2 separate regions of the Homo sapiens genome follow, and region 1 is linked to region 2. The links come from fine-mapping of genetic effects on gene expression. A gene starts in region 2. The other region holds a variant in brackets. All regions are shown on one strand. Distances are from middle to middle.

The links. PIP is the estimated chance that this variant, and not a neighbour inherited with it, causes the effect.
Region 1: its variant is the best candidate, but not a certain one, in a credible set for the expression of PCBD1 in lung (TOPMed, PIP 0.66).

The regions. Positions count from the first base shown.
Region 1 is chr10:70,831,467-70,835,863 of GRCh38, forward strand. The region is part of intron 2 of SGPL1 (sphingosine-1-phosphate lyase 1); the gene reads left to right. Among named protein-coding and RNA genes, the nearest start is that of SGPL1, 18 kb to the left of the region's middle. The variant C/T (reference allele first, on the strand shown) is at 2,389.
Region 2 is chr10:70,886,338-70,890,734 of GRCh38, forward strand. It overlaps PCBD1 (pterin-4 alpha-carbinolamine dehydratase 1), which reads right to left and starts at 2,228. Exons shown (of 4, transcript NM_000281.4): 1 at 2,194-2,228. The coding sequence starts at 2,196. RefSeq lists silencers at 1,485-1,764, 2,095-2,344.

The DNA.
Region 1 (4,397 bases), 55 kb before region 2:
CCCATGACCTCCTCTTGGATTGGATTAATTTGCTGGAACAGCTCACAGAACTCAGGGAAACATTTACTTAGGTTTACAGGTTTATTTTAAGGGATACTGCAAAGGTTACAAATGAAGAGATGCATGGGGCAAGGTATAGGGGAAGGGGTGTGGAGCCTCCATGCCTCCCTGGGTGCACCACCCTCCAGGAACCTCCATGTGTTCAGCTATCCAGAGGCTCTCTGAACCCTGTCCTTTTGGGTTTTTATGGAGGCTTAGTTACATAGGCATGATTGACAACCATGTAGAAATGTGACTGGACACAGGAGGCATGATCTCATACTAATAGACTGACCGGAAACCCAGCAAGGCCTGTCTGTTCAGGTTGTCGCTGGCCTTTCTGTGCAGCCTTCCTTCCTCCAGAATATGGGGCACAACCCTCCCAGGAATGAGGGTTTTTTGGCCCACAGTTGGACTAGAGTCTTGCTTTGAGGCAGGTAAAAGAGGACAGGAGAAGGTTGAGAGAGATTCTGTTTCCTGAGGCCCAAAGTGCCCCAGCATTATAATAGAAGACTATAACAAGGGCTATGGGGGTTATGAACCAGGAACCATGGATGCAAACCAATATATACGTATAACATCACAGAAGCACACTTTCCTGCTCACTTTCAATAGATACCACAAAGTTTGAAACTCTTCCAAGTATTAATTTTAAATTAAATTTACTCAGCTGCTTACTTCAGCTTTTAAAAGTAGGTTCTTGGTAATTTCGAAGATGCACTTTCCAAAGGGTGTTTATATAGTTGAAGGTCAGTCAGAGACCTAGGGATAGGTCCCTGCTTATTCTTTTGAGCAGGCTTACGTGTTGGAAATCTCTAGAGAAATAGCTTTAGTTAGGTTACACTTCTCAGCAAATATTCAGTATTCCTCATCTCTAATAGCAGCATGACTGTTGTAGGGAAGGAATTTCCACAAATGGTTATGAAAAGTCTAAGTGTCTTAACTCCCAGACAAAGATAGAGAATTCTGTTAGTAAGATAAGTATGGGACTGGAGAAGTCAGCTAACCTCTGCCCTTCCCCAATCGTGATATGCTCAGAGAAGTTAAGACTTCTTTCTGTGTGAGAAATACGGGATCTTTTCCACTAGATCTTGCTTATTATCCAAGAAATTATCATTTCTAGTTTTAGAGAATGATGAAACTCATTTGTGCTTTGAAATATAACCTGTATACATGTGCACAGTAAGTCATTTAGCTATTTATTGTCAGACTCTGAGAGTTCATAGCAAACTTAGCAACATTCCATGTGCAAATTTGCATATTTTTCCCCCCATATCTTACCTACTTGCCTTAGGCTGGGAGTCTATTTTCCTACAAAACTGGTAATTGCTCTTATCTCTGTGTCCTTCAGTGTGTTCCTCTGCTTATTGAATTCAGTTTTATGCATTTAGTCTTCTCTCCTAGTATAAGCTGCTCCTGATACTTTTAAATATGTATTTCAGAAGAGAGGTGCTCAGAATTGTTACTTAACAGAATCAGCATCTCCCTTTACTTGATGCCTTGTCCTGACCACAAGTACATTAATAAAGTGACCATTTAGCAGTGTTTCGGGTTCAGCTTTTAGGAACTTAGAAGCTGTGGTTTTCCATGAGTGCACTTCTGATGACTTGGGAACATTTCATATGTGTGTTCTTTCTGTGGCCAAGATGGTTTTGTTATTTCAGGGATGGAAAGATGCTTTGCCTGAATACTCCCATGCTAAGTGTATAGCAGTTGGTGCTTGGGGAATGGTACCAAGTGTACATATCTGGCAAGGCCAGGCTAGAAGGGAAAATGTAGACTCTTAAGCTTTTTGAGACGAACTTCTCAGATACTGGATCTCTTGACTCACATAGTGGAATTTTGGGGGAAGTATGTGGTTTGCTTTTTGTCTCCTAAGAAATGATGATTCAGTTTCCTCAAACGTTTCTCACAGTCACTACTGGTTGCTTGGAATGGCTGTCTGGTTTTGTTGCTCAGTTCTTACTTCTTTAATGACCCAAGAGGATTTTCCCTTTGGGGTTGTGATGTGTTTTTGATGATAAACTTTAATGCTTTTGGAGGCTATAAAGACAATAGTATTTTCTTACCTGTTTACCTTGCACTTTGAAGTTCTGTAGACTGTAATATGAAAGAAAATCAGATTAAATTAGCTTTGCTTTCTGGCTTTTCTTTTTTTGGTGGGGGGGCAGAAGCTGATAAGAATAAATATACTAACTGAGTCTCTTCTGTATTTTAACTTCACTCCCTAGGCTGAGGCTTAGTCCTTAGAGTAACATTTGAACTGGGTAGAACAGATTTTTCTTTTCCTCAACAGCCCATTCCTGCTGTAAAGCTCAGATTTATGGTCCTTCTGGAAAAAGTATTGAG[C/T]GTTGAATAGTTCAGGAAAACAAATAACAAATTCTGTCTTCTTTGCAGGATTGTGGGGTAGAAGATTTTGATTTTTATTAGTATCTGGCCAAAGAATAAATATTAGGCAGGAACAATGAATTGATATCTAGTAGAGTGACGTGACTGGGCCCTGACTTTTAACACTTCCCAGGAAAGCTTCGTGGATGTCTTTTCCCTGCTGCGTGAATACCGGGTAGCCATTAAGTTTGGTGATTGGGTGTCAGTAATATGTTAAGTCAGCTACTGGGTCATCTTTTAATAAAAGAAAAGGATGGGGAAGAGAATGGATTCTTAAGCAGTGTTGCCTGTCAGAATCACCGGAGGGAGGTTTACAAAATACACATTCTGTACTCTGACCCTGTGGGTGGGGTATTCTGACCCAAGAAGATGATTCGTTCCAGGAATCATGCTTCTTGGATGATATTGATGTACCCCCACTGGCTTTATGGAAAGAATATTGAAGAAGAAGATAGATTCTCTTGGGGGCTGTGCCTCTAGTTTGAAACCAGGGAAGGCACATTTTGGTATTAGTCTGTGGCCTCAGTTTCTTCATCACTGCAATGAGATTGGACTATAGGTGGTCTCTAAGGTTCCTTCAGACAGTAGCATTTTATGATTTTGAAGACAACTTTTCTGAAGTACTTTTCAAACTAATTTCTTTCCGTCTTTCTTTTGTAAGCAAATAAGTAGTATGAGTGTAAGTCTCTAGCTCAGAGAAGAATGAAGTTTGCAGTTCGAAAAGGCCATGCAATAGCAGTTCACTTCCCCAAAATGCTCAGCCCTTGTAGGATGCCGTTAGGTCATCTGGAAGTTCTGTATGCCTTCACTGGGAGCGTAGTGAAGATGAGAGCCTTTCCTTTGGCTCTTGGAGTAAACTAGCTGACAGGACTTTGAGAACTGTTGGTCTCCTGATTTGTGCCACTGATAGTTTGGCTCTGGAAAACTAGGCAGTGGAAAAAACAATGCATTTTAAACCAGAAGATTTGAGTCCTGGCTCCGCTATTTCCGAGCTTTGTGACCTGTAGGCCTCAATGTCTTCATCTGTGAAGGACAGGTTCAGCTCTGATGGCCTATGATGTGATGAACCTTGTGAACTTGTAGGCAGAGTGCCACGGTGTGCAGAGTCCAGTTACAGATAACCAGCCATTCTCCTCTGCAGATTCAACCCACTGCCACTGTGTCTTGTTAAGCTTAAATAGGAGAGATGTGGGAGAGAGGAGGCAGAAACATCCTAGGATCTTGCAAAACAAAACTGTCAAAAGTATAGGCAATATCATAATTACTTTATTTGAATAAACGTTGAGTTCCTGCTGTGTTGAAGATGCTGTTTTAGGCAGTGTAGGAGATAGAAGACTTATATCCTCCTCCTAATTTGTATTCTTATCAGCACCTGGTACCATAGAGAGTTCATATATTAAAATTATTTGGTTGTTCTCCCTAACCAGAGTTGAATTCTTTCCTTCTAGGACAAATTAACTCATAATGCAATAGGCTAATGCAGTTTGGCCCTGAGTGACTCTTGAGAAATACCCTGAGTTGAGGCACACTGGAAACGTGGCACATTAGAAATGCCAAGAAGAGGCCGGGTGCGGTGGCTCATGCCTGTAATCCCAGCTCTTTGGGAGGCCGAGGCGGGTGGATCACGAGGCAGGAGATCGAGACCATCCTGGCTAACACGGTGAAACCCTGTCTCTACTAAAAATACAAAAAATTAGCTGGGAGTGGTGGCGGGTGCCTGTAGTCCCAGCTACTTGGGAGGCTGAGGCAGGAGAATGGCTTGAACCCGGGAGGTGGAGTTTGCAGTGAACCAAGATTGCACCACTGCACTCCAGCCTGGGTGACAGAGCAAGACTCCGTCTCAAAAAAAAAAAAAAAAAAGAAATGCCAAGAAGACATTGTACAGGAGAATGAAGGGAAACTTTCTGTAGGGAAGTAGCTTTCCCAGAAACTTGACTCTATAATGAAGCTATAGAGATCAGTAAAATCAT
Region 2 (4,397 bases):
CTCTCAGGAAGAGTACCCATGACTCTCCCCCCTTCCTTTTCCTATTATGTACTTCATCATATGCACCCCACGTCCCTACCGTAACTTTCACGTGTATTGAAGAGGAAACAGGCCTAGAGAGGGGAAACGACTTGTCTGCTGTTCTTTCCCGCCCACCCCTAGCCAGTGATGGCGCAGTGTTGTCTGTGTGTCAGCATTGCTGGGGCTGGACGAAGGAGCTACATTTAAAATAAGTGTCCATCCCATTCTTAGCCACACTGCAGCTGACCGCCGTTGGCACTACCTCTAGTAGGTCCTCAGTCATGCTCCCAGGCAGCCTCTGGTCCTGAGCCGCCAGGGCTAGGTTTCTCTGGTTTTCCGTCTGCTTTTCTGGCTGGTTGGGAAGCTCAGGCCAAAGTGGAAGGAACTTGGCCAAAGGCAGCTGGCAAACCTAGTGCCCCATCCTATTTACCTAATGTGCGAAGTGCCCTCAAGGCAGCCCAAATTGGCACAATTCAGGCCATGAGTGGAACCTCAGAGAAAGCAAGGAAGCAAGGGTCAGTTTCATCCTAGGAGGATCCAGGTCTAGGAGCTTAACAGATCCCAGAACCTAGGCTTCTAGAGTAGCACCACCCCAGGGCAGAAATAGAGTGCTGAATTGAAAAGATACCCTTAGGGGTGGGGAGGGAATGTGAGGGAGGTTGATTTAGCTTTTATGAGGCAGCCTGCAGACTGGACACCATGTGTTGATTGGCAGGAGTTTTGAGACCCGCTTTCACCATTTACCAGCCAGGTGGCTGTACCTCTCTTGGCAGAACCTCCACCTCCACAGATCATCATGAGGTGCCAATGGGACACTTTAGGAAACTCCACTGCTATAAAGCAAATGTCATCTGCATTACAAAAAAAAAACTTCCTAAGGCAAGCAGGCTTGTGATGGGCCTGGTAGCATTTGGGGTAGCTGAAGCATCGCAGTGCTTTCCTAAGTCCGTCTTTTTTCCCTGCTGTTTTCCCTCCTGAAAACGTGAGCTCTCTCTGGACTGATGTAGCTTGGCCCCTCTCTTCCCCTCGGCTCTGGATGACTATAGGGATTGAATGGCAGCAGCGATTTGCATCATCTGCCCAGTAGGTAGGTCTCTACTCCAGAGCTGGCCTTCTCCCCGTGGCTGACCGCCTGGTCCGTGTATCTAGACAACCAGAAGTCAGCCAAAGCATCAGAGCCCACTGTTTACTTCCTTGGCTCTTAAAGGGGTGGGTGAGTCCAGGTGAGCTCTTAGGAGGCTTCCCTTTCTCGGTAGAGCCTTCTGGAACCCCCCAGGTCGCACAGCCTGCGGCTGAACTGACAAACCTTCCAGGTGCCGGCTCTGGAGACAGAGAGGGGGACGCTGCCCCGTTTGCCTCCTCTGGCGAGGTGTGGGGAGTGGTTACCGATTTCCCAAGCCTGCATCTCTGGGACCTCAGCGCCCCTCACAAACAGCCCCACTCATCCTCCCTCCCCCAAGTCCCTCTCCTATCAAAAGGCCCTCCCAGTCTTGCCTGCTCCGAAGGCCTGTGGACCAGAAATGGTCTGATGAAGCTCGCGAGCTTACAGCAGAGCAAGGGCCCCGCCCCCGCCCCCGCCCCGGGGGTGGGTGGGGGAAGCTCACGGGAGGAGGGCTGCTCCAGCGCCACCAAGCCCCCGTGGCCTGGCACGGGCCTCAAGCCGGCGCGGGGAGTGGCTCTGGGGCCAGCATACCGGCGCAGAGCGTGAGTCCCAGGCAGACCCCGTACCCAGAGTGCCAGCGGGAAGGGGCAGCGGACAGGCACGCACACGAGCGCGCAAACTCAGCCTCCCTCTCGCTCCCACCCCAGTATAAAGCAGAATCGGGCCACCAAGGGGACGAGATCCGTGGACTCCTCCACGACTGTCTTCCCCGGCCCAGGAAGGTCGTAGGCCCCGCCCCCGGAAGGGTCCCGGAACAAGCACTGGCCGGGGTCAGGGCAGGCCTGGCCTCCCAACTGGGTGGGATTCGAACCCGCCACCGCCCCTCTCAGGGCTTCAGCTTCCCCTCCCCGCCGCCAGCGACAGAGAGCCGGGCAGAGACCCCACTTTCGGACCCCGGCGGCTCCGCAGGGGACTCGAAAAGACTTTCCCCCGCCCCTTCCCGCTCCCACCTCGCCCGCGGCTGCCCCGGCCCCGCTGCCCCGATCGCGGCCGCGCACCCCTGGACTCACCATGGCGCGGGCGGCAGCAGGTGGCCAGCGGAGAGGGCAGGCGGCGGCCGGGCGCGCAGGCTGCCGTCCCGGGGCGGGGCCGCGCTCGGGCCGCCCTCCGGTAATGATTAACGTCCCCAGCCAGGGACGCGCTCGGCCTGCTTGCTTCCAGCACTTTCCTCGCTGCTCAGAGCCATCCTCCGTGCTTGTTTCAGGGAGCTAGGGTGAAGCATGAGGGCTCCAAATGCCCGCTTCTGGGTTGGAATCCCACCCCGCCGCTTACAGCTGGGTGGCCCTGGGCGCCAGAATACCTATTTTTTTCTTTATAAAAATCTCTTATTTGGATATAATTGACATGCAATAAATTGCACATATTCAACGTGTACAATTTGATAAATTTTAATGTTTCCCTCGTGAGACCATCACCGAGATCAACATTATGAACATATCATCATCCCTGCAAGTTTTCCCTTGCCCTTTGGTAACCCCTTCCTCCCGAAACCACCTGGCCAGGCAAGCACTGATGTACTTTAGGTCACTATAAATTAGTTTGCATTTTCTAGAATTTTATGTAAATGGACCATAGAGTATATACTAGGCAGGATAACTGTTTTGGGGTTCAGCCATGTTGTTGCCTATATCAATGGTTTCTTCCTTTTATGGCTAAGTAAAATTTATTTTATAGTATTGCATTGTACAGATAGACTACAATTTGTTTAGCGATTCACTATTGGACATTTGCGTTGTTTACCTTTTGGCTATTACAAATAAAGCTGCTGCGAATATGGTGCACAAATCTTCGAAAGTACGTATGTTTTAATTTTCCTTGAGTAAACACTTAGGAATGGAATGCCTGGGTCATGTGGTAGGTGGACTTTTATAACTTATTAGGAAACTGCCATACTGTTTTGCAAAATGGTTGTATCATTTTATATTCCTAGCAGCAGTGTATGAAGGTTGCAGTTCTCTGTCCTCACCAACACTTGATATAGTCAGCCTTTTAAATTTTAATTGGTGTGTAGCAGTATCTCATTGTGGTTTTGAGTTTCCTTGATTAGTAATTGTATTGAATGTCTTTTCATGTACTTATTTGCTAAGGATAAGTTTTTTTTATTGAATAGCATGTTTGAATTTCCTGCCCATTAAAAAAGAAATTGGGTTGTCTTCTTATCGAGTTTTGAGGGTGTTTTATTCTGGATATAAGGACATGATCAGGCAGTGATTTGCAAATATTTTCTTTGCATTATCTTATGGTGCCTTTCAAAGAGCAAACGTTCTTAATTTTGATGAAATCCAATATATCAAATGTTTCTTTTATGGATTTCTATTTTGATGTTGTACACATAGAAATCTTGGCCTAACCCAAGATCAAAAGTTTTCTCCTATGTTTTATAGCTTTTGGTTTTACATTTAGTCTGTGATCCACTTTGAGTAAATATTTTTATATGCTTCAAGTTATAGATCCAGATGCACTTTTGCACATGGCGACTCAGTTATTCCTTTCTCCACTGAGTTGTCTTTGCACCTTTGTAAAATATCAATTGACTGTATACATGTGGGTTTATTTCTGAGCCCTTTCTTCTGTTCCATTGATCTGTTTGTCTGTCATGACAGAACACTACCTTGTCTTGATTATTATAGCTTTATAATAAGTCTTAGAGTCAGATTAGAAAAGTCCTCTCACATTTCACATTTTTCTATTAACTTTTATTCTTGTGCTCCACTTTTATTCCCCGCCCCCCACCACCGCCCATAGCAGCCTCTCTAATGTGTTAATGTGTATTTTTGTTTGCACAGGTTCTTGCAAAATGTGTGGTGTTGTTTCGTCTATGTGTATTTTTAAATTTATGTAAATGGTATTATGTAAATATATTACATTTCTCAGTCTGTTTCTTACAAAACAGAGTATTTAGTGGAAAATTAAGATCTACCCATGTTGCTATATGTATATTCAATCTGTAGCTTTTAACTGCAGCCTAGTATTTTGTAATGAGAATCTGCCATGGGTTTCTTGTTCTATCAGTGATGGACACTCAGGTTCCCTTCAACTTTCTGCTGCTACCACCACCTCCCAAGCCCGTGAGCATGTGGGCACACAAACACATACGTACACAGAGTTAAACAACAATGCTGCTGCAGTGAACATCTCTAATTGCTCCCTGGGCTGTGGGCAGTTTCTTAGGCAACTTAAGTATATCCATACCCTATAAATCCAGCAATTCCCC